2 separate regions of the Homo sapiens genome follow, and region 2 is linked to region 1. The links come from fine-mapping of genetic effects on gene expression. A gene starts in region 1. The other region holds a variant in brackets. All regions are shown on one strand. Distances are between the middles of the regions.

Evidence for each region.
Region 2: its variant is fine-mapped to the expression of TMOD2 in whole blood (TOPMed, PIP 0.98).

The regions. Positions count from the first base shown.
Region 1 is chr15:51,744,926-51,760,775 of GRCh38, forward strand. TMOD2 (tropomodulin 2) reads left to right here and starts at 6,672. Exons shown (of 10, transcript NM_014548.4): 1 at 6,672-6,787. It also overlaps a transcript of LYSMD2 not described here. RefSeq lists an enhancer at 6,226-6,295 and silencers at 6,406-6,835, 6,886-6,995, 7,026-7,085.
Region 2 is chr15:51,787,368-51,803,217 of GRCh38, forward strand. It overlaps TMOD2 (tropomodulin 2), which reads left to right. Exons shown (of 10, transcript NM_014548.4): 8 at 10,830-10,973. Among named protein-coding and RNA genes, the nearest start is that of TMOD3, 34 kb to the right of the region's middle. RefSeq lists enhancers at 1-403, 7,354-7,523. The variant C/G (reference allele first, on the strand shown) is at 9,202.

The DNA.
Region 1 (15,850 bases):
AAGGGGATATTACTACTGATCTTAGAGAAATAAAAAGAATAATAAAGAATGTTATGAACAACTGTGTGACAACAAATTAGATAACTTAAATAAAGTGAATGAATTCCTAGAAAGACATGAACTAACAAAACTGACTCAAGAAGAAATACACAATCTGAATAGACATAGGACAAGCAAACACTGAATTTGTCATTTTTAAACCTCCAACAAAGAAAAGCCAAGACCTAGATAGCTTCATTGGTGATTTATACCAAACATTTAAAGAAAAACTAATATTAATCTTTTGCAAACACTTCCAAAAAAATAGAACACTTTCTAACTCATTTTATAGTGCCAGTATTACCTTAGTACCAAAACCAAAGACATAACAAGAAAAAAAAACTACAGACTAATATTTCTTATGAATGTAGACACAAAAATTCTCAACAAAATACTAGCAAGCTAAACCTTGCAACATGTAGAAAGATTATATACCATGACCAACTGGGATTTATCCCAGGAATTAATGGTAAATTTAACACCTGAAAATCAATGTATTACAATATATTAACAGAATAAAGGGAAAAACAACCCACAGGACCCTCTCAACAGACACAGAAAAAGTCTTTGATGAAATCCAGCACCCTTTTGTTATAAGAACATTCAACAAAGTGGGAATAAACAGGAACTCCCTCAAACTAGCAAGGGATGTTTACCAGTGAACACCATCCAGAAAGTTAAAAACACACACCACACACACACACACACAATGGGAGAAAACATTTGCAAATCGCATATCTAATAAGGCACTTGTGTCTAGAACATATAAAGAACTTTTATAAATCAATAGCAATAAAACAAATAGTCCAACTGAAAAATAAAGTAGGCAAAGGATTTGAATAGACATTTCTCCAAAGAAGATATAAAATGGCAAGTAAGCACATGAAAAAATGTTCAACATCATTAGTCATTAGGGAAATCATTAAAATCACAATGAGATACCACTGCATATTAACTAGGATGGCTATAATTTTAAAAAGACATTAACGAGTGTTAGCAAGGATGTGGAGAAATTGGAATTTTCACCCATTGCTGGTTAGAATGTAAAATGGTGCAGATACTTTGGAAAACAGTTTGGTGGTCCCTCAATATGCTTCATATAAAGTTACCATATGACACAGTAATTGCACTCCTAGATATATACCCAAGAGAAATAAAAATATATCTGTACAAAAATTTGTATATGAGTGTGCATAGCAACATTATTCATAACAGCAAAACTGTGGAAGCAGTCTAAATGTCCATCCACTGATGAACAGATAAACAAAATGTGGTCTATCCATGCAATGAATTCTATTTGGCCATAAAAAAGAATAAAGTACTAATGTGTATTACAACATGGATGAACCCTAAAAATATTATAATTAGGGAAAGAAGCCAGTCATAAAAGACAACATGTTGTATGATTCCATTTACGTGAAATATCCAGAATAAGCAAATCTAGAGAAGACAAAAAATAAATTTGTGATTGCCAGAGTCTGGGTGTGTAGGGGGAATGAGGAATGAGTGCTAACATGTCTGTGGTTTCTTCTGAAGTTTTGAAAACGTTCTAAAGTTATAATAGATTGGGAGATAGTTACACAACTCTGTGAATATACTAAAAACCATTGAACTGTGCATTTTAAAAAGGTGAATTTATGATATGTGAAATATGTCTTAACAAAACTGTATTTAGAGAGAGAGAAAGAGAGAGAATGGTTTAATAAAGCTCCAACACTCAGCTTCAACCATTATCAACTCATGGCCAATCATTTCATCTATACCCCACCCCACCACTCTACCCCGTCTCCCACACTCGATAATTTTTAAAGTAAATTCCTGATATTATTTCTTCTGTAAATAATCAGTTTATCGCTCCAAAAAGTAAGGACTCTTCAAAAAAATAATCATGATACTGTTGTCACATCAAAAAATTTTTTAAAATAACACCTTAGTCCAGGCATGGTGGCTCATGCCCGTAATCCCAACACTTCGAGAAGCCAAGGCAGGCAGATCACTTGAGGTCAGGTGTTCGTGACCAGCCTAGCCAACATGGTGAAACCCTGTCTCTACTAAAAAAAAAAAAAAAAAAAAAAAAATACGAAAATTAGCCGGGCTTGGTGGCACACGCCTGTAGTCCCAGCTACTTGGGAGGCTTAGACATGAGAATTGCTTGAACCCGGGAGGCAGAGGTTGCAGTGAGCCGAGATCACGCCATTGCACTCCAGCCTGGGTAACAGAGTAAGACTCTGTCTCAAAACCAACAACAACAACAACAACAACAAAAACTGTAATGCCAGCACTTTGGGAGGCTGAGGCAGGCGGATCACTTGAGGTCAGGAGTTTGAGACTAGCCTGACCAACATGGAGAAACCCCATCTCTACTAAAAATACAAAATTAGCCAGGCGTGGTGGCGCATGCCTGTAATCCCAGCTACCTGGGAGGCTAAGGCAGGAGAATCGCTTGAACCCAGGGGGTGGAGGCTGTGGTGAGCCGAGATCACGCCATTGCACTCCAGCCTGGGCAACAAGAGCAAATCTCTGTCTCAAAATAATAATAATAATTTTAGAAAACAGACCTTAATATAATCAAATATTCTGTGTTCACATTTTCCCTAATTGTCTCATTAATGTGAATTTTTAACAGCTGCTTTCTCAAATTAAGATCACACATTACATTTTGTTATTTGTCTCTTGAATTTCTGTGTATCTATAAGCTTTCTCTCCTTTTATTTTTCTTGCAATTTATTTATTGAAGAATCAGTTGTTTGTCATGTAGAGCTTCCTATATTTTGGATTTTGCTGATTGCATCACTGTGGTATCATTTAACATGATCATGATTACATAGTAATTAGCTTTTAGATGTTTGCTGTCAATTATACTACACATACGATTTAATTCATAATTCATCAACATAGTCACTGCTCCTTTAGTCTTTATCATCCACCATATCCTTTGAAGCATCTTTGACACAAATTATCTCAGTTAGTCTTTCTAATAACCCCATGTGGTAAGTATTATTATCCTCAGTTTAAGAGATGAAGAAGGCCGGGCCCGGTGGCTCACGCCTGTGATCCCAGCACTTTGGGAGGCCGAGGCAGGTGGATCACAAGGTCAGGAGATCGACACCATCCTGGTCAACATGGTGAAACCCCGTCTCTACTAAAATACAAAGAATTAGGCGGGTGTAGTGGCAGCACCTGTAGTCCCAGCTACTCAGGAGGCTGAGGCAGGGGAATCGCTTGAACCCAGAGGTTGCAGTGAGCCAAGATCGCACCACTGCACTCCAGCCTGGTGACAGAACAAGACTCCGTCTCAAAAAAAAAAAAAAAAAAAAAAAAAAAGATGAAGAAAATGAGGCTTAAGGGAGGTTACAGAAACTTGGCCATAGTCATTGTGCCAGTAAATATCTGGGTTCAAACTCTCTGATGTTAAAACCCATGTTGTTATCTGTTATATGATAATATCCCATCACATTGCCTGTGGTTTGTGGTGGTTGTTTTTAATCAACTCTAGGAAGCAGTCTTTCAGTCCATCCAAAGAATGTACTTTCACATTTCATCTTTAACACTTAGGATGCTTTCAGCTTCAAGTAACAGAAAACTCCATCTCAAATTGACTCAACAATAAGGTTATTTATTATCTCATATAACAAGAAATCCAGAAGAAGGGCAGCACTGGGGCTGGTTGATGACTGACTCAACAACAATATGGCCGACCCAGATTCATCGTATCTCTTTACAATGGCCAGAACTGGGTCACATGTCCACTCCTAAACTCTTACAGGCCAGTTAAGAGGATTCTATTCCTCTTGTCTATGATAGATTTGAGAGTGTACCTCTCAGAGGCTAATAGGGTCACCTTTCCTAATGTGTAAACACCCATATAGGCTTCTATAAAGAAGAAGAGGGTGGACTGAATGTTTAATAGACAACCAACAGTGTCTACTACCTGTTCCTAATGAGGTGTGCTACATATTCCACTGTGAATAATTAAAATACTTCATTATAACTGCCACGTTGAACTTTTTTCCTTTCTGCCATTTGACAATTACAGTCAATATATCAGCTTCCTCATTTACAGGAAGAAATGGCTACACAAAATGATATGTAAGGTCCCTTCCAGCTCCAGGAGTTCTGTTTCAATTTTACATTTTCATCTTCTAAAAAGCAAGTAGAAAAGTTAAACTTACAAGATATGGTCCAGAAATGATCATGGGTTTCAACTGATAAGTCATAGGCATATTGACATCCTTTCTTCCTTAAGATAAGACATAGGCAATAGATTTAAAGAGCTAAACAGACTGGAACTGGTAATATCTTTCCATTAAGTTTTAACATTAGGTTAAATGTTCTACTTCCCTCACTCATCCTTTAACACCTTCCAGCTTCCAACACTCATCATACAGACAGAGACTGATCAGAAGTTTCTTTTCACAACTCACTTTATTTTGGTGTCAGCATCCTCCTGGAGCATGGCTCTGGGGCTGTAGGATAGCTCTTGTATCTCTGCTTCGACTGCCGAACATGACTTTAACTTAAATCATTCCCCTGTCTGCTTCCTTTCATGGCTAGTTTCTGAAGGAATACTCTATTCGTTTTATCACATGCAGCCATTTTCCTCGTGCAGAACCACGGGAAACCAAAGAGAAATACTGTACACTACTGAGCACCTTTGCTACTCTTTCTTCCAATATGAATGAAATTGCTTTATTATTTTCAGCATATGCCTACTATCAGCTTTCTCTGGGAAAACTGCTGGCTCGATCCGTAAGCAGCCCTGTTCTTATTTAACAGAAGGCTATGACTGTAACAAATGTACAACATAAAAAAGTCAAAGGCATCCTGTCGGTTACACAGGACATTCGGAATAACAAATGTACAGGAAAACTTGGGAACATGACTTAAAGTAATTTGGTCACACCCCCATTTCATTTAACTCTTTCTGGCTCAGATTTGTCATTCTGACAGGAGGCCCAAGATATAGTCCATTACCACAATTGATCATAGAAACAACACTGGTCTCTCAGTCAGCAGCCACTGCGTGCCAGTGTTCATCATGCTAGTTCCCAGAGTTTTAGAGGATTAACTTTACTTTCTGGTTCAACCCATCTGCTGGGGAAGGTATGGCCCTATTTTGCAATGTGCAAAAGGGAGACAGTGCTGGGGGTGCCCACAGTGGAAGGAGAGAAGACAGGCTTACTGAACACCCCTATGACCTTGAATAAGTCACATCACCTCTCTGTGCCTCTTATTAACTATCATTGGGGAAAAATACCTTCACTCTGCCTGTCTCACAAGGGTTCTTGTAAAAATCAAATGAGAACACAAATAGGAAAGTATTTTCATAAATGCAAACCAGTGTTATCATTTTCAGATGTGGAATTTCCTCTGCAGCACGTTTTTTTGGCCACACGATTACTGCACACCTCGTGCCAGACAGACTATAAAGCTGTTTCACCTCTTTTCACATTTTGCCTAAAATTTCATATAGAGATTACACCAGCCATGCTGCATCCATCCCTTTGGTTCATTTTCCTCCACTACATCTGTGAATGCAAATCCCACCATCATGTGAAACACTGCATAGCAGCAACTTGCAAAACTCAACGAACCTTAGACTGCCAAGATAAGTCCCATAAGCAAAGGTTATGCTCAAAATATGCTGCAAAAGTTCAAGAAGGAGAGAGATATCACATCTAATTAGAAAAGGCCTCTGGAAGTTAAATCTAGATGCCATGTATTTTCATAATGTTGGTCTTTGTCCTATGTCACCCCACTCTGCTGTCATGCTTCAGAAACTTGACTTTATTTTCTCTATCTTTGGAGCTCTCAAGAACCTGGCAGACAGAACATCTCAGGGTATATTCAGGGATGAAGTGAACGGGCTCAACGACTAACAAACCCAGTGGATTTTAACATTTACCCAGCCCAACGAGGTCCAACTATCTTTAGGTTAGCACGACATATAGGACTTTCCCGGCCCAAGAACTCCCTCGGAAACCCCAAGGAAGGAACTTTCACTGAGTATGCACTAAGTGCCAGATCCTAAGTGCTATGGGTCGCTTAATCCTCACAACACTTTTTCAAGCTTGAAGCCTGTTTTACAGATGAGGACGCGAAGGCTCAGACAGGCTAAGTTGTCCGGTCTCACCTCAGTGAAGCCGCCACTGCGCTTGGGCTCTCCAGCCCCTCACGCCATCACCCTAGAGCCTTGCTAACTTCCACCTCGCTTACCTCCTTCCCTCCCTAGGCTGCCAACCCAACTACTCTCTCCTCCCACGCCCACGCCCAGCCAGGAAAACCTGGGGCGGGCGGGGTCTGTACCTGAGACCGCTCTCAACGCGGCTTCCGTGTCAGGATGCTCGCTCACAGGAATGCTCATCACAGGCTTGAAAGCCTTTGCCATCCACGCTCTCCGGAGCCCCGAGCGTCTCCAAAGAGCCTGCCCAGGCTTCTCCCCGACCCAGGTGCTTCCTCCCCTGCAGAGCTGTGGCGGGGTTCAGACCCCGATTCCGGGAGAGGACACCTGTCGGGGAAGGGCGGGGCTGGGGGACTGCGGGGCCGCGGCGAGGCTCAGCCGGGAACTACGCTTCCCAGCCTGCTCCGCTGCAGCCGCGCGCCCCGGCGCCGCGCCCGGCCGGGAGCCGCCTGTTGATCGCCGCGCTCGCCCCGGCCACGGCGCCGCCCCTGTTCTCCCGGCCCCGCTCCACCGGGGCTGACGGACTGACGGCCAGCACAGCCGGCTCCGGGATGAGCGCACGGACGGGTGAGCGCCCCGGGGGGCGGGTGGGGCCTGTTCTGGACAGCCGGTGTCTGCAGCCCCCGGGCCCGCAGCGCGGTGGCCGCCGTGCCCTCCCTGCCCGCGGGAGGATGCTCCGCGACATGGGCGGTCGGCCGGGCGGGCGTGCAGAGCCGGGCCGCCTCTCGCCTCTCGCCTCCCGGCCCGGTCGGCTGCGCCGGGAGACCAGGCGCTGCGCCCGGGCGGGAGGCGCCCGCCGGGGTGTGAGTCCCGCGCCCCGCACTGCGGTGCCGCAGCCTCTGCAGCCCGCTGGGCCGCAGCGGGGAGGGCGCGGTCTCCTGTCCTCCCGGGCTGCGGGGCTGTGTTCTTCCACTCCGGGCTTTGTTCCCCCACTTTTCCCCTTCCTGTGCATGTTTGGTGAGCTCCTGGAGCGGTATGCATCTCCCTGCCTCGTTCAGCAGGCGATGGGGAGGGGTGGACTGGCCGGCGTCTTTCCTGAGATCGCTGGAGCTGTCACTCGCAGGGCGTTTCAGCCTCCCAGTAAGCGGCCTCGTGCGGATCCTCGAGAACCTTATTATTATTGTTATTACTTTTCTGGTTAAAGTAATTGTAGTATGTGCTCCCTTGAGGCTTCCTAAATGTTCCCTGTTGACCTGCGGAAATGAAGGTGGATTTTTAAAACAGTAATAAAAGGCTTCTAATGGGAATTTTTAGAGTATTCAGAGGTAGGAAGGTGATGCCGTCACAATGCAAATTAGCAGTGAAGGAGGCCGTGCTTACTGCAGCTTCGTCTGTGCCCATTACATATCTGAATCACGAGGCATTTAGGACGGGAATGAAAAGAAGATCGGGGGAGGTGTTTTAAAAACCAGGTTCTCCTCTTAGCTTGACCATTCAGGAGCTGAGGGACCTGGGCAAGTCCCTCCACCTCTCTGGGCCTCTGCATGTAAAGGGGCGTTTGGGCTAAATGATTTGTAAACCTCTGTTCTTCCAAGATTCTCCCCTCTCAGGGAACTGAAAAGATGAGAGTGTTTCTGTTTAACAGCACTACAAAAAGCCTAATTGTGACAACAAGCGCCTCTACCCTAGTGAGGAGGAAAGATTTTTCAGAGCTTCAGCAATCTGATTTTTTTTTAAAGATAAAACTGATTTTCTCGATCGACTCTCTTCAGTCTAACCCAATAAATACGCATTGCAATCATTTTAATTTTTGTAAGGTACTGTACATTGGTGGGCAACAAAATGATGGGGTTTGTTTTTGTCTTTAATTTGCTGAAGGTGAAGTGATGGGATCAGCAGATAAAGGATTAGTGGCTCCCTAGGGCTGGGCACGAGTGGTCAAATGTGGTCAGCATGGAGGTCGGGGAGGAAGCCCCAGCAAGAAGTAACCAGAATGTGTATACACAGAAAAGAGAAGTTGCGTACTGATGGATCATTGTTTGAAAAAGAAATATGCAATAGAAGGAATGAGAGAATCAGGAACTCGGCGCTCTGCAAACCTAACATAACAGTTGAATAAGGCAAGGACTTACCAACTGGTCCAAAACCTTTGAGTGAAAGGTGGTTGGGGAATAGGATTTTCATATTATTTCAAAGTATCTCACCACAGTTTACTCTGGGAAAATTTGTCCTTACAATGGAGAAATTAGGAGGTCACCACTGGAACCAAATGACCAAGTTTAGCAGCATCTACTGCGAGTCTCCCGTTGTGAAGCAATAAGGAGGCATAATTTCACCTCTGTAGTGTTCCTGCAAAAAGACTTGGCGATGGGGCAGAGCAAATGGGAGCAACTATTGTAGGTTAAAATACTCAAGTGATACAATAGTGAATTGGGATGTGTGAACTTTGAATCCTAGATGCAAAAAAAAAAGCTATAAAAGACAATTTGGAGATAGTTGGGGATGTTTGAATATGGATTGCATGTTAGATGATATTATGGAATTGGTGTTAATTTTCTTAGGTGCAATAATAGTTCATTCTTGTGGTTACCTAGACCAGACAATCCTTATTCTTTGGAGATGTGGATATTGGAGGTGAAGTGTCATGACATCTGCAACTTTCAGCTGTGTCAGAAAAAAAAAAAAAAGGATAGGGGTAGCAGAACAAGTTCAGGAACGTAGCAAATGTGGCAGAATGATGACGGTTGGTGAATCAAGAAGAAAACAAATGTTTATTGTACTATTCTTTTAACTTTTCTATAGATTTGAACTTTAAGAAATGGGGAAGTCAATAAAATAAATAAGCGAATAAAGAGAAAGTGTTGTAGAAGACGGGGGTGGTTCGTGACAAACAGCTGCAGTGAATCTGTGGGGAATTTCTTGGCTTCACCTTCCCAAAATTGAAATCACCTATTGGAGGTGTGAGTGGGGGGGACGGGGGGTTGGTGTTCCCATTTTTGGTTTATCTTGGCTACTCTCAATCATTTATGCTTAAGTACCCCATCCTCTAGCTTCAACTTCAAAGTATTAGTAATTCTCCATACCTAAGAAATTCTAGCCCTACCCAAGAACCATCCCGAAAGTGCTGTCCCTTTCCTCTCTGTGTCCGAGATCTGTGTCAGTGTGTAAGGAAGTTTGAGAACATAGGCAGTGGTTCATTTTATTTTGGGTTAGGGTAGTGTTGGGGGAAAAATGATTTAGCTTTGTGATAGGATAGAAGTTTTGGGGTTTCCTCTCATTCCCTTGTGTGTAAATCATATACAACCAAATGTTTTCCTTATAGACTTTAAGTGGTTCAAAGAGGTTCATAGAAGGCATGTGCAGAAGAGACTTCCTGTTACCAGACCACGAAAACAGAATCAACTCTTACAACACTTAATCTCTTACACGGAATCCCTTGCTGCAAAGATATTTTTGCTTTACCTGGATTATATGTGTTTATGTATACATGAAAATACTAATTTAAAGTATACATATTTACTTGCATGAATGTCTGTGTGTACTTGTGAATCTCTCAGTCAGTATTCCCCAAAATACATAGAATGTTAATGGGTTACAAGAAAAAGAAATTGCCTAGCCAGATGTGGAAAACACTAAACAAAGCTGGACAAGTTGGTTTATTCTTGACTTTTCAGAGCCTTTCATGGGTTAATGATCATTGTATATGGGGATGTAAATGGGGTGGGAATGTCCATAGGATGTGATATGTAATGTTTCCCAAACTGTGTGCAAAAATAAAAAATGAAAAATATCTTGAGGGGCTATCGTTACATGGAACCACCTTTGAGAAACTGCCTTTAATGCATTTTTGAGTGAAAGGTCAGGACATATGATTAAATGTGTAAGTTGTAAGTATTTGTGCTTCACATTACTTACAGATTAGAATTCAAATTTCAGTTTCTGGTTTTAATGGATCATAACAGTTTGACCCCAGTCTACTTTTTCATCCTAAATTTCCTAACTTTCTTCCTATAAATTCTCCTGCTTAGTCCTTTGTTGTATACTATGAACCATTTTTATTTTCAGCACACCAAAAAGTCAATTCTACGTAACTTTAAGGCTTCGTGGTTGTGTAAAATGAGATGCGCTCTTCTGCTATGGCTCTTCCATGGACTGAAATAGCCACCTTTCCTCCCAAAGCCATTTTGAGTTCCTTGGCCTTGGTCCCATGTTTCAGCACAACCTTCCTTAAAGCTGTGATTTCTTGCTATTTCTGCTTTTATGATTTGCCATCCTGTTTTGGCATCAAGGCTGCCCCACTAATTACCTCTTTCACATGTGTCATCACTATTCCTAGGTTCCCCTGGTGAGAGCTAGGTAGGGTGGGGATGAGAAAGTCAACTCCAGGACTGTGAGTGGCAGGAGCTCACAAAATAGGGCACAAGGCCAGCCATGCCAAGCCTGGACATGAGGAGAAAGGAGACAAGCTGGGGCACAAGCCCTAAGAAAGGACCAGGAGGTCCCTCATCAGAGTGGTTAGAGGAGTGTGGAGTCCAGTGAGCTGGGCTGCTATTCAAGCGGTGTGCATGGGGACAACTGTCCTCATTGTTGATAAACAACCATTCTGACTGGGCAGTGTCCCTTCTATACCAGTTGCTAAATGTTTTGCACATCATCTAGGTAAGCACTCACAAGTCAGGGTGCATACAGCATCCATAAGTCATTACAAAACCTGGATCAAAACCTAGCTGGTATAAAATGCCAAAGAAAGAGACAAGATGAGTGAGTCAAAGACCACATAAGCAAGCAGAAGAAAGGAGGGCACATGAATCAAAGGACAAAAAGCAGGAAACCCGGTGCCAATCAGGAAGTTAGAAGAAGCCCATAAGTTCCCAAAGGCAAGAGGAAGGACATGGTTAAAAGCAACAGGCAGTTAAAACCCAGAAAGGCGCAGATCTCCAAGTGGAAGGCAAGGAGATAAATAGAGGTCAAGCAAGAGGAACTCCTCTAAAAACAGAAAAGAAGGCCAAACACAGGGACAAGACAACAGCGGGAAATAGGACCCGCCATGAGAATTAGAAACCAAGAGGCAGGCTGGGCAGACAGCAAGACTTTTTGGCTTTTTGACTGCTTCCTACCCAGGTGGAAATCTATCTCATAGCTTGGCTAGCTTACACTATGGTGGCTTTCTACACCTGGCAATGCTGACCCGCAGCTCTTACAGGTTTTGCCTCTTTATATTCAGCAGATCTTGATGGGGAAAACAGAGGGAAAGAACACCTAAAACACGAGATTATTCCACAACCAAGGACGAAAGAGAAATAGCTTTGACTGAGGGCTTGCGCTTGCTAGACACTGCGCCTAATATGTACATGGTCACCTTAAGTGTCACCTCAGCCTTCTGAGATAAGTACTGTTCTTTGCATGTTTTACTGAGGAAGGACCAGAAGTTTGGAGAGGTTGTCACTGCACACATATCTGCACCATCAGACCTTGGGTTGGTTAACTCCAAGGCCCGTGCTTTTAGTCTTCTGTGTTCTTCTAACCTTGGACAGGAGCAGTCACTAGTGGGCACCTTGTTTTTCAAGTATGATTTAATCTTTGGCAAGTTTGTGTTGTAAGATTGGGAAATACGAGCTCTGCATTCTAGTAAGATCTGTTCCTCTTTCCTCTTTCAGCTTGTTCCTTCCCATTGCCGTACCATATTTCAGACTGAGACTTCTCCTTATCCCGCCTCATTCTGTCCTTCATCCTCTGCAAGTATTTCCCAGAATATATAGAAGTCTTTTAGTTGTTTAAAATAAAACAAACTTAATTGGCCCATCTTCAAATAGCTACATTACAAAACAGGCGGTTGCTGTGTTATATTTGCCCAGCAGCCAGAAATGAATTAAATATCTAAGATCAATTCATGTTTTGTTGGAGGATACATTGATATGCAGATTCTGTTCTAATTTACTAGTTTTAGAAAATGTGGATTTGGTTCTGGTGCAAATCGGTGCACTAATTGTTTAAAATTATGAAATATTGAAGACATATTAAAAAGAATAAAGAGGGCTGAGCGTGGTGGCTCACGCCTGTAATCCCAGCACTTTGGGATGCCAAGGCAGGTGGATCACCTGTGATCAGGAGCTCGAGACCAGCCTGGCCAACATGGTGAAACCCCGTCTCTACTAAAAATACAAAAATTAGCTGGGCGTGGTGGCGGGCACCTGTAGTCCCAGCTTCTCGGGAGGCTGAGGCAGGAGAATGGCGTGAACCCGGGAGGCAGAGCTTGCAGTGAACGGAGATCGCACCACTGCACTCCAGCCTGGGCGACACAGCCAGACTCCGTCTCAAAAAAAAAAAAAAAAAAAAAAAGCCATACTCCTTATTTTCCTTCCCAAGGCTTGTATATTTGGATAATAGGAAGAGTTATTTAAGGGCCCAAGTCATGCTTCCATCAGCTCAAGTCTTTAATCCTATTTTCTGTTTTCCTAACTGGCTCCTGTACTTGCCCACCAGGACTCCTGGAAGCCTTGTTAGGCATTTGCTTCACTCCAGCATGTACATTAGCATCATATTGCATGTTAAATGCTTGCCATGGGACAGACACACCACTGGAGGGGAGGCTGTAGCAGTGCTTGCTAACTTCCCACGGCAGCATTGCTAACAGGACGGAAGACAAATGGGAGCCCTTGGGCAGCCTTGGTGGGGGCAAAAGCAGACCAGCCATGAGCTGGAAAAGCTTTGATTTGACTTTAAAAGCTATGAGAATACTGCATTCTTCTCCACAGTATTTCTATATTTGCTTTTTAAAAATACAGCCTGGGCAATGTAGCGAGACCCTGTCTCTACAAAAAATTTAAAAACTAGCTGAGTATAGTGGGACATACCTGTAGTCTCAGCTGGGGTCAAAGGAGGTGGGGGGAATACTGAGGCAAGAGGTTCACTTAAGCTCAGGAGTACAAGGCTGCAGTGAGCTATGATCACATCATTGCACTCCAGCCTGGGGAACAGAGTGAGACCCTATTTCTAATAATAATAATAATAATAATAATAACTAGCTTTTCCCCAAATCTTCAGATCAAAGTTGTGCTCCAGGAGGATGCAAGTTTTTTTTTTCTCCTCTGACTTTGAGATCCCCTGGTACATTGACACAACATAGGCAATTTGTTTTAACAGCTACTGTTACATAGTATGAACATGTTATTTTAATTAATTAATGTATTTTCCTACTGAAGTATGACATGGCACTTATTTTCTGGGAGTTTGTAGTGTAGCTGGAGAGAGAACCATACATGCAACATACATGAAAAGATAGCAAGATATGTCAAATTGGTGATGTAGGCATACAAATTTAGAGGAAGGGGCAACTTCTGTGGGCTTAGATGATCTCAGAAAGCTCCATCACAGGGAGAGGAAGCAGTGGATAGAGTGGAATGAGCTCTGGACCTGCGGGTTCATTTGAACTCATTTCTTTCACATGACATTTGTTACACAATATTTATTGGATACCTACTTCAGATCAAGAACTGTGCTGGGAGTCAGGATTTTATCAGTGAATAAAACTCATACAGTCCCCCTCCCTCACAGAGATTAGCAAGGAAAATAGAGATAAAGCAAGTAGTTGTAATAAAGCCAAGAACAGATGTGATTAAAGGGGTAGCATGGAGATGGGGAGTGACCCAGACCTTGTCTCCAGGTCCAAACAAGGCTTCCCTGAAGAAGTGAAGCTTGCATGAGACCAGGGGATGAGTAGGATAGCAGTCAGCCAGAGGGGAGTGGGGTGAGAGTGTTCTGAGCAGAGAGAACAACATAAGGCATGATCCAGGCATTGGAATTGGGCCAGGAGGCTGGAGCCAGGAGGAGATGGGGAGTGCAGCACAGGATGAGGCTGACGAAGATGACAGAAGACAGACTGAATTTGAACCTTATCCTCAAGGCAGCAGAAGCCACTGGAGGATTTTAAGTAACTAGAGAAGAGTTGTTTAACTCTGTGCTCACTTTGGCCATTTGTATGGCGAATGGATCAGGAAGGGATAGGGTTGAATGTGGACAATGCAGATGAGTGAAGTGGGTGGATTCTCAACACGTTTAGGTAAGGACAGGATTTGGTGATTGATGGCTGGAAAAGAGACGAGAGAGAGAAGATGTTAAGGATGGCTCCCTGGTTTTTCGGCCAATTTCCTGAAATGGGAGATTCTGGAGGAGGAAAGATGATGAGAGCACTTCTGACATATTTGAGGTGTCTGAGGCAGCCAAGGAGAGATGTGAATTAGGCAGATGGAAATATAGGGGCCTAACCCTCAGGAAAAAAGTCTAGGATGAAGATACAGATTTTGGAATCTCCTGGATATATATTATAATTAAAATTTTGGAGGCAGATGAGTTCCTCCAGAGAGAATATGTAGTATGGAAATAGAAGAATTTATAAGATGAGACCTTGAAGAATGCCAGTATTTAAGGTGGAGGAAGAAGAATTGCTAAAAGAGACCAAAAAGAAATGGTCAGAGAAATAGAAGAAAAACCATCTATGTTGCTGGATTGAGCAATCTTTAAGGACTCTTTCAGCTCTGACATTCTGTGGTCCTGCAGAACTGGGATCTGAGCCAGGTCTCAAGAGCAGAGCGCATAGATAGGCCATGAGAATAGAGAACAGCATTCCAAGTAATATTAATGTATCAGCCAGCATCCCAACAAGAAACGGGATACACTCGAGTAACTTGAGAAAAATTTAATAAAGAGGCTATTTACAAAGATGGGGGGAGGATTTAGGGAATCCAACAAGGCAGAACTCTGGCACCAGCTGCACAAGGAACCCTTACCACCCAAGGCCTGAGGCCAGCCAGGGGCAGGCAGCTGTATGGAGAGGGCTGCCTCTTGGGAGATGTGACCTTCTGGACCCAATCTCCCCCTCCCCTGCTCTCCAGTTTCCTGCTAGTGCCCCCTGTGGGCCAAACAGAAGCCAGACAGAAAGGGAACCCATTGATACAGTCTAAATAGATCATCTTCCTGGAGCACAGAGCAGCAGGGGAGTGGATGTGGAGGTGCAAACAGAAGACAGCCAGAACAATCATCCTGGAAAATGGAAGTATTTGGGTAAGAGGGTGTGTTCATTCCCTATTGCTGCTGTAACAAATTAGCATAAATCCAGTGGCTTAAAACAATACAAACTTATTCTTACTTTTGTGGAAGTTAGAAGTCTGAAACACATGTCACTGGGCTAAAATCAAGGTGTCACAGGACTGTATTCCTTTCTGAAGGCCCTAGGGGAGAATCCATGTCCTTGCCCTTCCCAGCCTCCAGAGGCTGCCCACATCCCTTGGCTCATGGCCCCTTCCACCATCTTCAAAGCAAAAAAATTGCATGACACTGACTCTTCTGCCTTCCTCTTCCATCTTTTAAGAGTCCTTTGGATTACATTGGCACACCCAGATCATCCAAAATGGTCTTTCTATTTTTAAATCCTTAATCTGGGCTGGGCGTGGTGGCTCACGCCTATAATCTCAGCACTTTGGGAGGCCGAAGTGAGTGGATCACTTGAGATCAGGTGCTCAAGACCAGCCTGGGCAACATGGTGAAACCCCATCTCTACTAAAAATACAAAAAATTAGCTGGGTATGGTGGTGCATGCCTGTAATCGCAGCTACTCTGGAGGCTGAGGCAGGAGAATTGCTTGAACCCGGGAGGTAGAGGTTGCAGTGAGCCGAGGTCGTGCCATTGCACTCC
Region 2 (15,850 bases), 42 kb after region 1:
CCACCACAGCTCAGGAAGGCCTACTGCCTCTCTAGATTCCACCTCTGGGGGCAGGGCATATCTGAACAAAAGGCAGCAGACAGCTTCTCCAGACTTAAATGTCCCTGCCTGACAGCTCTGAAGAGAGCAGTGCTTCTCCCAGCATGGCGTTCGAGCTCCGATAACGGACAGACTGCCTCTGCAAGTGGGTCCCTGACCCCCGTGTAGCCTGACTGGGAGACACCTCCCAGTAGGGGCCGACAGACACCTCATACAGGTGGGTGTCCCTCTGGGACAAAGCTTCCAGAGGAGGGATCAGACAGCAATATTTGCTCTTCTGCAGCCTCTGCTGGTGATACCCAGGAAAACAGGGTCTGGAGTGGACCTCCAGCAAACTCCAGCAGACGTGCAGCTGAGAGGCCTGTCTGTTAGAAGGAAAACTAACAGAACGGAATAGCATCAACATCAACAGTAAGCACATCCACACCAAAACCCCATCCATAGGTCACCAACATCAAAGACCAAAGGTAGCTAAAACCACAAAGACGGGGAGAAACCAGAGCAGAAAGGCGGAAAATTCCCAAAACCAGAACGCCTCTTCTCCAAAGGAACACAACTGCTCACCAGCAAGGGAACAAAACTGGACAGAGAATGAGTTTGACGAGTTGACAGAAGTAAGCTTCAGAAGGTCGGTAATAACAAACTTCTCTGAGCAAAAGGAGCATGTTCTAATCCATTGCAAGGAAGCTAAAAAGGTTAGACGAATGGCTAAATAGAATAACCAGTGTAGAGAAGAGCTTAAATAACCTGATGGAGCTGAAAACCACAGTACAAGAACTTTGTAACTGAAAACCACAGTACAAGAACTTCGTAAAGCATACACAAGCTTCAATAGCCGATTTGATCAAGTGGAAGAAAGGATATCAGTGATTGAAGTTCAAATTAATGGAGTACAGTCAGAGGACAAGATTAGAGAAAGAAAAGTGAAAAGAAACGAACAAAGCCTCCAAGAAATATGGGAGTATGTGAAAAGACCAAATCTACGTTTGATTGGTGTACCTGAAAGTGACAGGAAGAATGGAACCAAGTTAGAAAATACTCTTCAGGATATTATCCAAGAGAACTTCTGTAACCTAGCAAGGCAGGCCAATTTTCAAATTCAGGAAATACAGAGAACACCACAAAGATACTCCTCGAGAAGAGCAACCCCAAGACACATAATTGTCAGATTCACCAAGGTTGAAATGAAGGAAAAAATGTTAAGGGCAGCCAGAGAGAAAGGTTGGGTTAAGCACAAAGGGAAGTCCATCAGACTAACAGCGGATCTCTCAAGCCAGAAGAGTGGGGGCCAATATTCAACATTCTTAAAGAAAAGAATTTTCAACCCAGAATTTCATATCCAGCCAAACTAAGCTTCATAAGTGGAGGAGAAATAAAATCCTTTACAGACAAGCAAATGCTAAGATATTTTGTCACCACCAGACCTGCCTTACAAGAGCTCCTGAAGGAAGCACTAAACATGGATAGGAACAACCAGTACCAGCCACTGCAAAAACATGCCAAATTGTAAAGACCGTCAACGCTATGAAGAAACTACATCAATTAATGGCAGCAAAATAACCAGCTAGCATCATAATGACAGGATCAAATTCACATATAACAATATTAGCCTTAAATGTAAATGGGCTAAATGCCCCAGTTAAAAGACACAGACTGGCAAATTGGATAAAGAGTCAAGACCCATCAGTGTGCTGTACCCAGGAGACCCATCTCATGTACAAAGACACACATAGGCTCAAAATAAAGGGATGGAGGAAGATCTACCAAGCAAATGGAAAGTAAAAAAAAGCAGGGGTTGCAATCCTGGTCTCTGATAAAACAGACTTTAAACTAACAAAGATCAAAAGAGACAAAGAAGGGCATTACATAATGGTAAAGGGATCAATTCAACAAGAAGAGCTAACTATGCTAAATATATATGCACCCAATACAGGAGCACCCAGATTCATAAAGCAAGTTCTTAGAGACCTACAAAGAGACTTAGACTCCCACACGATAATAATGGGAGACTTTAACACCCCACTGTCAATATTAGACAGATCAATGAGACAGAAAATTAACAAGGATATCCAGGACTTGAACTCAGCTCTGGACCAAGTGGACCTAATAGACATCTGCAGAACTCTCCACCCGAAATCAACAGAATGTACGTTCTTCTCAGCACCACATCGCACTTACTCTAAAACTGACCACATAATTGGAAGTGAAACACTCCTCAGCAAATGTAAAAGAACAGAAATCACAACAAACTGTCTCTCAGACCACAGTGCAACCAAATTAGAACTCAGGATTAAGAACTCACTCAAAACTGCACAACTACGTGGAAACTGAACAACCTGCTCCTAAATGACTACTGGGTAAATAACGAAATGAAGGCAGAAATAAAGATGTCCTTTGAAACCAATGAGAACAAAGACACAGCGTACCAGAATCTCTGGGACACATTTAAAGCAGTGTTTAGAGGGAAATTTATAGCACTAAATGCTCACAAGAGAAAGCAGGAGAAATCTAAAATCGACACCCTAACATCACAATTAAAAGAACTAGAGAAGCAAGAGCAAACATATTCAAAAGCTAGCAGAAAACAAGAAATAACTAAGATCAGAGAAGAACTGAAGGAGATAGAGACACAAAAAACTCTTCAAAAAATCAATGAATCCAGGAGCTGGTTTTTTGAAAAGATCAACAAAATAGACCACTAGCAAGACTAACAAAGAAGAAAAGAGAGAAGAATCAAATAGATGCAATAAAAAATGATAAAGGGGATATCACCACTGATCCCACAGAAATACAAACTATCATCAGAGAATATTATAAACACCTCTACGCAAATTAACTAGAAAATCTAGACAAAATGGATAAATTCCTGGACACATACACCCTCCCAAGACTAAACCAGGAAGAAGTTGAATCTCTGAATAGACCAATAACAGGTCCTGAAATTGAGGTAATAATTAATAGCCTACCAATCAAAAAGAGTCCAGGACCAGACCGATTTACAGCCGAATTCTACCAGAGGTACAAAAAGGAGCTGGTATCATTCCTTCTGAAACTATTCCAAGCAATAGAAAAAGATGGAATTCTCCCTAACTCATTTTATGAGGCTAGCATCATCCTGATACCAAAACCTGGCAGAGACACAACAAAAAAAGAGGATGTTTAAGCCAGTAATGATGAACATTGATGTGAAAATCCTCAATAAAATACTGGCAAACCGAATCCAGCAGCACATCAAAAAGCTTATCCACTATGATCAAGTCGCCTTCATCCCTGGGATGCAAGGGTGGTTCAACATACGCAAATCAATAAACATAATCCATCACATAAACAAAACCAACTACAAAAACCACATGATTATCTCAATAGATGCAGAAAAGGCTTTCAACAAAATTCAACAGCCTTTCATGCTAAAAACTCTCAATCAACTAGGTATTGACGGAACGTATCTCAACATAATAAGAGCTGTTCATGACAAACCCACAGCCAATATTATACTGAATGGGCAAAAACTGGAAGCATTCCCTTTGAAAACCGGCACAAGACAAGGATGCCCTCTCTCACCACTCCTATTCAACATAGTATTAGAAGTTCTGGCCAGGACAATCAGGCAACAGAAAGCAATAAAGGGTATTCAAATAGGAATAGAGGAAGTCAAATTGTCTCTGTTTGCAGATAACATGATTGTATATTTAGAAAACCCCATAGTCTCAGCCCAAAATCTCCTTAAGCTGATAAGCAACTTCAGCAAAGTCTCAGGATATAAAATCAATGTGCAAAAATCACAAACATTTCTATACACCAAGAACAAACAGAGAGCCAAATCATGAGTGAACTCTCATTCACAATTGCTACAAAGAGAATAAAATACCTAGGAATAGAACTTACAAGGGATGTGAAGGACCTCTTTAAGGAGAGCTACAAAACACTGCTCAAGGAAATAAGAGAGAGAGTACACAAACAAATGAAAAAACATTCCATGCTCATGGATAGGAAGAATCAATATCATGAAAATGGCCACACTGCCCAAAGTAATTTGTAGATTCAACACTATCCCCATCCAGCTACTGCTGACTTTCTTCACAGAATTGGAAAAAACTACTTTAAACTTCATATGGAACCAAAAAAGAGCCTGCATAGCCAAGACAATCCTGGGCAAGAAGAACAAAGCTGGAGGCATCACGCTACCTGACTTCAAACTTTACTATAAGGCTACAGTAACCAAAACAGCATGGTACTGGTACCAAAACAGATACATAGACCAATGGAACAGAACGGATGCCTCAGAAATAACACCACACATCTACAACCATCTGATCTTTGACAAACCTGACACACACAAGCAATGGGGAAAAGATTCCCTATTTAATAAATGCTCTTGGGAAAACTGGCTAGCCATATGCAGAAAACTGAAACTGGACCCTTTCCTTACAGCTTATACAAAAATAAACTCAAGATGGATCAGAGACTTAAATGTAAGACCTAGGACCACAAAAATCCTAGAAGAAAACCTGGGCAATACCATTCAGGACATAGGCATGGGCAAAGACTTCATATCTAAAACACCAAAAGCAATGGCAACGCAACAAAAGCCAAAATTGACAAGTGGGATCTAATTAAACTGAAGAGGTTCTGCACAGCAAAAGAAATTATCATCAGAGTGAACAGGCAACCTACAGAATGGGAGAAAAAAATTTGCAATCTATCCATCTGACAAAGGGCTAATATCCAGAATTGACAAGGAACTTAAACAAATTTACAAGAAAAAAGCAAACAATCCCATCAAAAAATGGGCAAAGGATATGAATAGACACTTCTCAAAAGAAGACATTTATGCAGCCAACAGACATATGAAAAAATGCTCATCATCACTGGTCATCAGAGAAATGCAAATCAAAACCACAATGAGATACCATCTCATGCCGGTTAGAATGGCAATCATTAAAAAGTCAGGAAACAACAGATGCTGGAGAGGTTGTGGAAAAATAGGAATGCTTTTACACTGTTGGTGGGAGTATAAATTAGTTCAACCATTGTGGAAGACAGTGTGGCAATTCCTGAAGGATCTAGAACTAGAAATACCATTTGACCTAGCAATCTTAATAACTGGACATATACCCAAAGGATTATAAATCATTCTACTATAAAGACACATGCACACATATGTTTATCGCGGCACTATTCACAATAGTAAAGACTTGGAACCAAGCCAAATGCCCATCAATGATAGACTGGATAAAGAAAATGTAGCACATATACACCATGGAATACTATGCAGCCATAAAAAAGGATTAGTTCATATCCTTTGCAGGGACATGAATGAAGCTGGAAACTATCATTCTCAGCAAACCATCACAAGATCAGAAAACCAAACACCGCATGTTCTCACTCATAAGTGGGAGTTGAACAATGAGAACACATGGACACAGGGAGGGGAATATCACACACCGGGGCCTGTGGAGGGTGGGGTGCTAGGGGAGGGATAACATTAGGAGAAATACCTAATGTAGGTGACAGGTTGATGGGTGCAGCAAACCACCATGGCACGTGTATACCTATGTAACACAACTGCGCATTCTGCACATGTAACCCAGAACTTAAAGTATAAAAAATAAAAAGAAATAAAACATGAGCCACAAATGGAAGCCCCATGTATAAATTTAAATTATTTAGTAGCCACATTAAAAAAAATACATAGTAGACAAAATTAATTTTAGTAGTAAATAGATGCTCCTTGACTTACAATGGGGTTATGTCCAGATAAAACTACTGTAAATTGAAAATCTTTATCTGAACATAGCCTCATCATAAGTCAAGGAGCATACTGAATAAGTATCACTTTCACATCATGGTAAATTCCAAAAATGGAAAGTGGAACCATCGTAAGTCAGGGACTCTCTGTATTGTATTTAAACCAATATATCCAAAATGTAATTTGAAAATATAATGAGGTATTTTGCATTCTTTTTTTCATACTACATCTTTGAAATCCAGTGTGTTTTATGTTTGCAGCACATTTCAAATCAGACTAACCAGTTTTCAAGGGCTCAGTAGCCACATTTCTCATGGCTACCATTTGGCCAGTGCAGAAATTTGCATTTCCATACAATCCTATAAAGTACAGACAGCAAACCCTTCTCTTTAAAGATGTATTTCTACTCTACTTCAATTACATTTAAAACATCTAGTCTTTGTTTTACTAATGTTATTATTCCCAGCACATGTAATATGCTCAAATATTTGCTGAACTGAAGTGAACCTGGGCCTACAGCCCAGTATTGTGTTTGGCTGGCTCGCCCCTGTTTTGTTCAGCACAAGAAAGTGTTTTCTCAAGTTTAAAAGAAATTGGCAAGATCCTGGCAACTCGCCAGGAGGTCCTGCAACTTTCTGTAAAGGCCTAATTGCTCTGACATTTTGTTATTCTAATAATGATAGTAAATCCCAAAGCTTGTAGAGTCCAAAAGGAAAGTCCTGATGCATCCCTCTCTGATGATCAGATTAAAATGTATAGATTTAATTTTAATCAAGGACCTAGCACAGAATAAATGCACTTTAATTTACATGGTATGCGATAGTGTAAATCCAAATTGTTGAGCTTTCTTTGCAGTGCAAGCAACTGCCTGACCAAGATACAGGATTATTCTTCTAGTCCAGTGGTTCTCAACCTAGGGCAATTTTGCCCTCCAGGGGACAATAGGCAGCATCTGGAGATATTTCTGGTTGTCATGATGGGGAGGAGTGCTATTGACATCTAGTGAGTCTCAGAGGCCAGAGATACTACTAAATATCCTTCAATACACAGGACAGCCTCCCACAACAAAGAATTCTTTGGCCCCAAGTGTCAGTCATGCTGAGGTTAAATAACCCTGTTCTCATCCAATATTGGGACTTCTCGTCTTCCTTCTTCCTGTCTTTTCCACTGTAAAAACAATTAAAATAGTTCAGAACTTTTTTGTTCTACTCCCCAGAAGCAATCACTATTAGCAGTTTGTTTTTCATTCTTCTGGTTGTTGTCTTTATGACTTTAATTAAAGTGGTTACTGGCTCATGCCTGTAATCCCAGCACTTTGGGAGGCCGAGGCAGGAGGATCACTTAAAGCCAGGAGTTCGAGACCAGCCTGGGCAACATAGAGAGACCTGTTTCTACACCAAAAAAGAAAAAAGTGGTTGTCAATCCTAACTGCACATTATTCACCTGGAGAGCTCTTCAGAAATGCAGATGGCCATTCCACAGCCTCAGAGATTCCGATTTAATTCATCTGGGGTAAATTTTTTAAAGCTCCCAGACCATTCTAATGTGTGGTCAATGTAGAAAACCAGTAATATACAGAAATTTATATTTTTCATTTATCATCTTAGAAAATTTTTTATTCTCTATTATAAAAGATGAGGGTAGTTCTATACTTAATTTTCCATTCCTCCTTTCTCTTCCACTTCCAAATTGTAGATATTCCATTATTTTCACACATTTGAGCTTTATACATTTTCTGTAATTATATTCTGTGTTTGTATATAGATTGATTCCAAAAATTAACCTATTAGCAGCATTTACAATTATATGACTTATATAAATATAAATCTCCATTCTCATGGGCCTTACAATGTAGTGACTAGTGCTGACCTGATTTTTGATCCTTTGCAGGTAACTTGTTTTTCCTTGCTAGAAATTTTTAGTACTCTCTTTCCTCTTGGAATTCTGAAATTTCACTTGTCTGTTCACTTAAGAGTCATTTTGGTCCGGGTGCGGTGGCTCACACCTGTAATCCCAGCACTTTGGGAGGCCAGGGCTAGTGGATCACCTGAGGTCAGGAGTTCGAGACCAGCCTGGCCAACATGGTGAAACCCCGTCTCTACTACAAGTATATAAAAAAAATTAGCCAGGCGTGGTGGCCCATGCCTGTAGTCCCAGCAACTTGGGAGGCTGGGGCAGGAGAATTGCTTGAACCAGGAGATGGAGGTTACAGTGAGCCGACACAGTGCCACTGCACTCCAGCCTGGGCAACATGTCAAGTGAGACTTTGTCTCAAAAAAAAAAAAAAAAGTTTTTTTTATTCATTCTGCTGAGTGTCTAGTTATTTCCTTCAGATAAAGATCCGTAACTTTCTTCATCTCTGGGAAATTTATTTTTTCTCCTTAATTATTTGATAACTTCTTCTCTTCTGCTTGCTTGCTTGCTTTCTTTCTTTCTTTCTTTCTTTCTTTCTTTCTTTCTTTCTTTCTTTCTTTCTTTCTTTCTCCTTCTGGAACTCTTCTTAGATGAATGTTGAATCTCTGCATCTTTCATCCACATCTCTTAAGGTTTTCTCATAATTTCTATCTTCATCTTTTTGCTGTATATCCTTGGAAATATCCTCAGTGTTATCTTCTAGATCACCAACTTGGTCTTCAGCCATGCTTATTTTGTAATTCTAGATGTCTATTATTTTCTTTTATTTCAATGTAGTTTTTTTAAATGTTCAAAATGTTTTTCTTTTCTCTGTCTCTCTCCGCCGCCCCCCACCCCCCACCCGACTTTTTCTCTCTTTCTTTCTTTTTCTTTTTCTTGTGGGGCAGGGAGGAAAATAATACATAATCAGAATTTTTAAATTTGTGTCTGTTTCTTCTATGGCATATTGACCTGCTTGGTCAACTTTATTCTTTCATGATGTTGGTTTTCTTAAAATGTCTGGCAATTATTGGTTCCCTGTTTATAATGGAGAGCAAGGTTGGTTTGTATAATCCAGGATCATTTCTCCTGCAGTTGTATCTATCTGTTTTACCAACAGACCTCTCCCTTAAAAAGGAGGCCCCTTTATTTTTCTCCATTTGTCACCATCTGATAAGCTATATATTTTATTTATTAATTTATTGACTCTGCCCTCTTGCTCAAATATAAGCCTCTCTGAGGACAAGGATTTTTGTTTTCTCTTACTGCTAGAGCACAGTAGAAGCCTGACAAATAGTCTTTTTTGAATGTATGAGTGAGAGCTTTTTTTCAGCAGCAGGTGTGCTGACCTGCCACCTTCTCTGCAGTGTGTGTATAAGGAGCTCACAGGCAGCCTGAGAGTCCCCTGCAATCGCTACAGTTAGGAGGACTTCATTCTGGGAGGGGCACCTTTCAATGTATAGTAGTCCCCTTATCTGCAGAGGTTTCAGTGGATACCTGAAACCACAGATAGTACCAAA[C/G]CCGATATGTGCTATGTCTTTTCCTATACTACACACCTATAATAATGTTTAATTTTTAAACTAGGCACAGTAAGAGATTAACAGCAATAACTAATAATAGAACAATTATAATAACAATATGCTGTTATAGAAGTTGTGTGAATATGGTCTCTCTCAAATATCTTACTGTACTATCCTCCTCCCTCTTGTGATGATGACATGAGATGGTAAAATGCCTGTATGATGAGATGAAGTGAGGTGAATGACATAGGCAAGGGGACTGCGTTAGGCTACTGTTGCCCTTCTGACCATTTGTCAGAAGGAGGATCATCTACCTCCGGTGATCCTGGCTCATCCAGCCATGACGATGTCAATGGTTGGATGTCAAAAGCAGACAGTGTCATTGGTTCATAGGCAGGGACAGCACGGAGATGCTGGACAAACAGATGATTCACCTCCTGGGCGACATAGACCATAAGATTTCATCATACCACTCAGAACAGCATGCAATTTAAAACTTATGAATTGTTTATTTCTGGGGTTGTCCATTTAACGTTTTCCCACTGAGGTTGACAGCAGGTAACTGAAACCGCAGATTGCAGGGAATACTGTACTTCATTCCTGGCAGAGCTGCCTTTCCCATTTTCCCCCCACACTGTACTGGTGTGAAGGTCTGGAGGCGCCTCTGTTTCCGCACTGCTTCTGTCACAGGTCGCAGCACCTTCACCAGAGGCTCTTCCTGGGAGACTTCATTGATTGTGCTGGCAGCTGCTCTTTTTCCTGGAAGGTGCTGGGAGGGATAGTGTACTCTCCATCTGCCCTAGCTGTTCCATCTGTTCCTAAGGCGGTTCTTTAAGGAATTGCCCCAAATGGGACCTATCTCTAGCAGCTCAGGCAACAACTTGCTTGTGCTAATTTATCTGTGAATCTTTCTATTTTCTGTATTTCAGCAATTCCTCAAGATAATGGCCTTTTGTTTTGTTTTGTTTTCTTGCACTGTGAGAATTCCAGTCTCTTAAAAATTATATTATTTCTTCCTGGTGGTGGGAAACTCTGGGAGTAAAGAGAGCCGGCAGGTGCCCGTGTGCAGTCCGCTGTCTCAAACTGGAGTCTCCCATGGGTTTGCCACCCTCAGTGGTGATTTTGTTCCAAAAGTTATTTTTTAAAAATTCTGATTTATACATGATCTGAAATAATATAACTAAATCACTAGTTTCCAAGTGCTAGTCAATGGTAAAGTTTTTTTTTAATTAATTCATAGTAAAGGAAAAAAACTGGGTTTTCTGGGATTATGTCCTTTCTACCTTTTTTCTAATGTTAAAATGTGTTTTCTCAAAAAAAAAAAAACAGTAGTGGTTTTTTTTTAATGTCTCTACTTAACAAAAAAAATCTGTAATCCTATGTCAGTATCTTTTTTAAAAATAGTTTTTGCAAGTATGTGAAATTTATGTCTAGACTGCTGGACTGAAATATTTTAATTGTGGTTTTAAATTGTATCTTTGTTACTTGGAGGTGAAAGTATGATTTGATGAAGGTTTTCTTTAAGTGCTAGAAAACATCTGTATTTAATTTGGGAGTGAGGGGTTTAGTAAATTAATCTTTAGAAATTCTAACTTAATTCTAAGTTTTTTTTCTTTTTGCATCATAAGGCTTTTGCAGACATGCTGAAAGTAAACAAGACCTTGACAAGTCTAAACATAGAATCCAATTTTATCACTGGAACTGGGATCCTGGCCCTGGTAGAGGCACTGAAAGAAAATGACACCTTGACAGAAATCAAGATTGACAACCAGGTAAGGAAGGCCAGAGAATAGGCAAAGTCAACTCACAGGGTGTGCAGTGAGCGGGGGAAATGCCACAAGGAATGAGTTAAAAGACACAGTTCTGTGTGTGACTCAATTTGATGTACTGGATTTCCTGTAAGTTTTAGAACCATTTCTGGCCCATGGAGGATGTGCAGAAGAGCATGTTACTAATCAAACAATGTACAGTGGGGCAGCCTGGGACATAAAGAGCCATCTATCCCACAACCCTAGGCTAGTCAGGCTCCAGAAGAGAAAGCAAGGAGGTGGTGGCAGAGGTGTTGATAGCTGCTTTATTCAGTCTCATCATTGTTGCCTTTTGGCATGTATCTCTTCCCTGTACTATCCCAGCCTTACTTTTGCTTCTCACTGGGACTGTTGCTAACAGAGAAAGCAGGGTAGCCGTGTCCAAAGATTCAGATTTCTTTTCCTTGGCTGAAGACTTCTAGAACCAAAAGAGCAGATGCAGGCTCCTGCAGTCTGATGCTGGCTGCAGAGAGCCTATTTAAAGGAATCAGGGTTCTAGAAGATGGTCTGGCTTAGAGTAGCAGGCCACACCCATGAGATTGTGGTCTGATCACAGTCTCATTGATCATGACCACAGCATTTCTCAGGTTCCCGTCTGCAGCCAAAGCAAGGTGCTTTTCCCTAGAGCCACCTCTTCCTGCCTGGCGACCTCTTTTTCCCAGCGTCAGCCTGCAGTGCCTTCCGAGTTGCTCTGCTGGCTTCAGCTGACTCCTGCCCACAGACAGCAACTCTCAGTGATCAGCCATGATGTAGAGCCCTGCTCCTCTGGCCATGGGGAAGGGTCTGTGATGGGGTTCCAGACACTATATCTTGAAAAGAAAGGGCCTTGGAAAGGAGAGACCAAGGAGACTTGTGGTATGAGCATTCGTTCCCCTGTGGGATGGTGGGAGAGACAGTTGGGGAAGTGACTGCTCAGAGCATCCTTTGCATGTCTGGGGGCCATCTCTGGGAAAGTTCCTGGTGCAGACCCTCCAAGATCTGATAAAGCCGCAGAGTGCCATCCAGGACTGTTGCCTAACCCTGGAAACCCTCAACAGTTCCTATGGAGGCTCTATTCTCTGTCTTTGCTAACCAGGACAAGCAGACTGTTTTCAGTGCAGGCCCTCTGGCCCTGGACTAATGATGTTTGTTGCCAGGGGAACACAGAAAGCCCACTAGGAGAGAGGAACTTTTACATTCGCATCCTGCCAGAAGGAATGTGCCACCAAAACGGCTTTCCTAGACACAGAGATGTGGAGGCAGCACCCCAGGGGATGTGCCACACAGGGCCCCGCACACTCAGGAAGTTCGATGCTGTGTATCCTAGCATATGTCCAGCTGCTAGTAAATTAGAAAGTGGCATCAGGGTGTGGGGGAGTAAGGAAACAAGCCAGAGAGAAATATGAAGGGAGAGAACAGAAGTGATCACTCAGGGATATTTGTTGAATAGACTCATATCAGGAAGAAGCTAAGTGGGCACTTAGTAAATATTTCCAGGGAAACTAACACAGAAGTGGATACCCTGTTCCAAAGTATATTTAACTTTGTTTACGGATTTAGGCCATTGTGAAACCCCATATCTGAAATAATATCACACACTCTGTCCCTAGTTCCTTACAAGATACCACCTAGCTAAGGTTGCCACATAAAATACAGTTAAATTTGGCTTTCAGATAAATGATGTATAAATTTTAGCATGTGTCATCAAATATATGGGATACCTTATACTATACTAAAAAAATTATTTGTTGTTTATCAGAAAGTCAAACTTAACTGGGTGTCCTGTATTTTTATTTGCTAAACCTGGCAACTCTATGCCTAGTATTGAGTTAGAATTAGCCTAGAATGAGCTAGAATTGTGAAAATTTAGAACAGAGCAGCTTTTGACAATGCATATAAAGAAGACCCTGAAGTACAGCCTGTAATCCCAGCACTTTGGGAGGCCGAGGCGAGCAGATCACCTGAGGTCAGGAATTTGAGACCAGCCTGGCCAACATGATGAAATCCCATATCTGCCAAAAAATCCAGAAATTACCCAGGTGTGGTGGCACATGCCTATAATCCCAGCTACTGGGGAGGCTGAGGCGTGAGAATCACTTGAACCCAGGAGGCAGAGATTGCAGTCAGCCAAGATCATGCCACTGCACTCCAGCCTGGGTGACAGAGCAAGACCGTGTCTCAAAAAAAAAACAAAACCCTGAAGTACAAAGAATTTGCTCCCTAAAATCCCCTCTAAATCAACCTCATCACCCCTCCTCAGCCATCTAGGAATGGATTTGTGTAGTTTTTCAACTTTAGTATTTCATTTTGCTTCTGAAATGGCTTCTCTTTATTTCTTTTTTTTGTTTGTTTTTTGTTTGTTTGTTTTGAGACAAGGTCTCACTCTATGGCCCAGGCTAGAGTACAATGATGCAGTGTGGCCTCACTGCAATCTCCACCTCTCTGGCTCAAGTGATCCTCCCACTTCAGCCTTCTGAGTAACTGGGACTACAGGCACACACTACCATGCCCAGCTAATTTTTAAATTTTTGTAGAGACAGGGTCTCACTATATTTCCCAGGTTGTTCTCAAACTCCTGGGTTCAAGCCATCCTCCTGCCTCAGCCTCTCAAAGTGCTGGGATTACAGACATGAGCCCCACCGCGCCTAGCCTGGCGTCTCTTTATTTGTATACGACAAGGAGGATTAAGATTTTCTAGAGAGGCTGGGTGTGGTGGCTCACACCTGTAATCCCAATGCATTGCAAGAATGAGACAGGAGGATCACCTGAGCCCAGGAATTCCAGGTTGCAGTCAGTTATGGATGTGTCACTGCATTCCACCTTGGACAACAGACCTAGACCCTGTATATTCATTCTCTCTCCCTCTCTCTCTCTCTCTCTCTCACACACACACACACACACACACACACACACACACACACACACACACCCTGTCTCTCTCTCTCTCTCTCTCTCTCTCTAAGAAAAGATTTTCTAGAGGAATTGGAAAAAATTGTTTGCTTTACTTGAGAAATGAGGGAATTCGGGGTCAAAACTTGTCTTGCATCCAAATTGTGTTCATTGACTCATAGACTGTTAGAAGTAACCTCAGTTTCCTTATCTATCTAATGAGGGGTTTGAAATAAAATAATCTGTAAGACAGTTTCCTCAGGCAGAACCAGAAGCCAAGACCAATTTAACAGCACAGCAATGGGCAGCTGCACCAAAGCGAAGGCCTGCTGAGAATCCACCACTGGGGGCAGGCTGCTGTGGCTAGGCTCCAGGTCAATGTGCAGTGATTTAATCAGGTGCCCCCATGGGAAGAACAATCGGTGATGCATATTAAAGAAACAGATGGGGAACTGCTAAATAAATTTGAGTAGATAAAAGAGGTCACTTAGAAAAACACAGAAGGCGATTTGAAGATATGCTTAAACATTTGTTTCTATTTTTCCCCCTTTGTGTTTGGTGACTTAAAATATAAAAAGAGCCTGGGCCTCTAGTCCCAGCTACTTAGGAGGCTGAGGCAGGAGAATCCCTTGAGCCCAGGAGTTCGAGTCCAGCCTGGGCAACATAGCAAGACCTCATCTTTAAAATATATATATAATATAATATAACATAATAAAAGTTATATAATTTAATACACTACATACTTAGATAATTTAAGTATATATAAAGACTGTATATCCAAATTATAAGAAATTTTGATGCCCATCTATTGTCCTGGGTTTATGTAAGACCTCAAATCCAAAAAAAGATGCAGGCTGAGGAAGAAACATAGTGTATGTTACATTAATTCCTCCCCTTTTTTATATGCCCCCCAATTTAATTTTCTTCAGCTTCTAAGTCTTTTATATAGCTATTAGCATCTCCTTCCTCCCCCTCAAAAAAAAATAAAGCTATTATTCTATTATTAATATTTCCTATTTTTGATTCCAGATTATATTAATGGTTTAAGTTAACATAAAAGCAGAGTTGGTGTTTCTGTTTCACTACTTTGCCAGAATGTCATCCAAGGTTCATTACAAAATAGAGAAAACCCTAAAGAAATTACAGTTGACGTCTATATAAATAGAACATTCAAATCAAGGATGAATAAGTGTGGATTTGTCTTTTATTGCAAAACAAAGCAGCTGTAAGGATGCTGAGCAGAATTTAAACTACTAGGAAAATAGCCAGCTACTTGGAGAGGAGGGACTCAGATACTTGGGAATATAGGTGATTTGGGGTAACTTTGGACCACTGCATTAACACTGCAAGTTATCCAAGTCCAGGACTCAAATGCTCCAGGGGCACAAGCCGTAGTAGTGGCAGCCCTAACCTTAGCTCAGGGCTCATCCCTTGATACGGTCCCACTCTTCTAAACTATGTCATTTGCTAAAGTTGCTCATGAAACTCTGAGGTCAGCATCTCTTACTTTTTTGCTGCCACTCCCTCCCATTTACTCAAAATGCTTAGAGCGTTAATCTCTACCATAATTATTATTGTCTAACTGGAAATACCACATTGTGTTAAGTTCTTGAGGAGAGACTCGTTTGAGGGGTTGCTGGATGACAAGAAAGAGAGAAGCAAAGAGATAAGCCTTAAACTTGCTTGGGACGCAAGAGTTCCTCCATAAACTTTTCTTCTTCATCCACTCCATACTTAAATTTTCCAAATTTAAAAGGTATATATTTTTAACTTATTACAAAGTAATCAAGATTGTATGGTACTGGCACAAAAATATACTAGCAGAGCAATAAAGCAGATTCAAATCAGGGAAGAATGAAATAAAAGATGGTGGGATAATTTGCTAGCATTTTGGAACAAAATTAAATTGGGTCTCTATATCTTCTTTTTTTTTTTTTTTTTTTTTTTCTTTTTGAGGTGGAGTTTCACTCCTG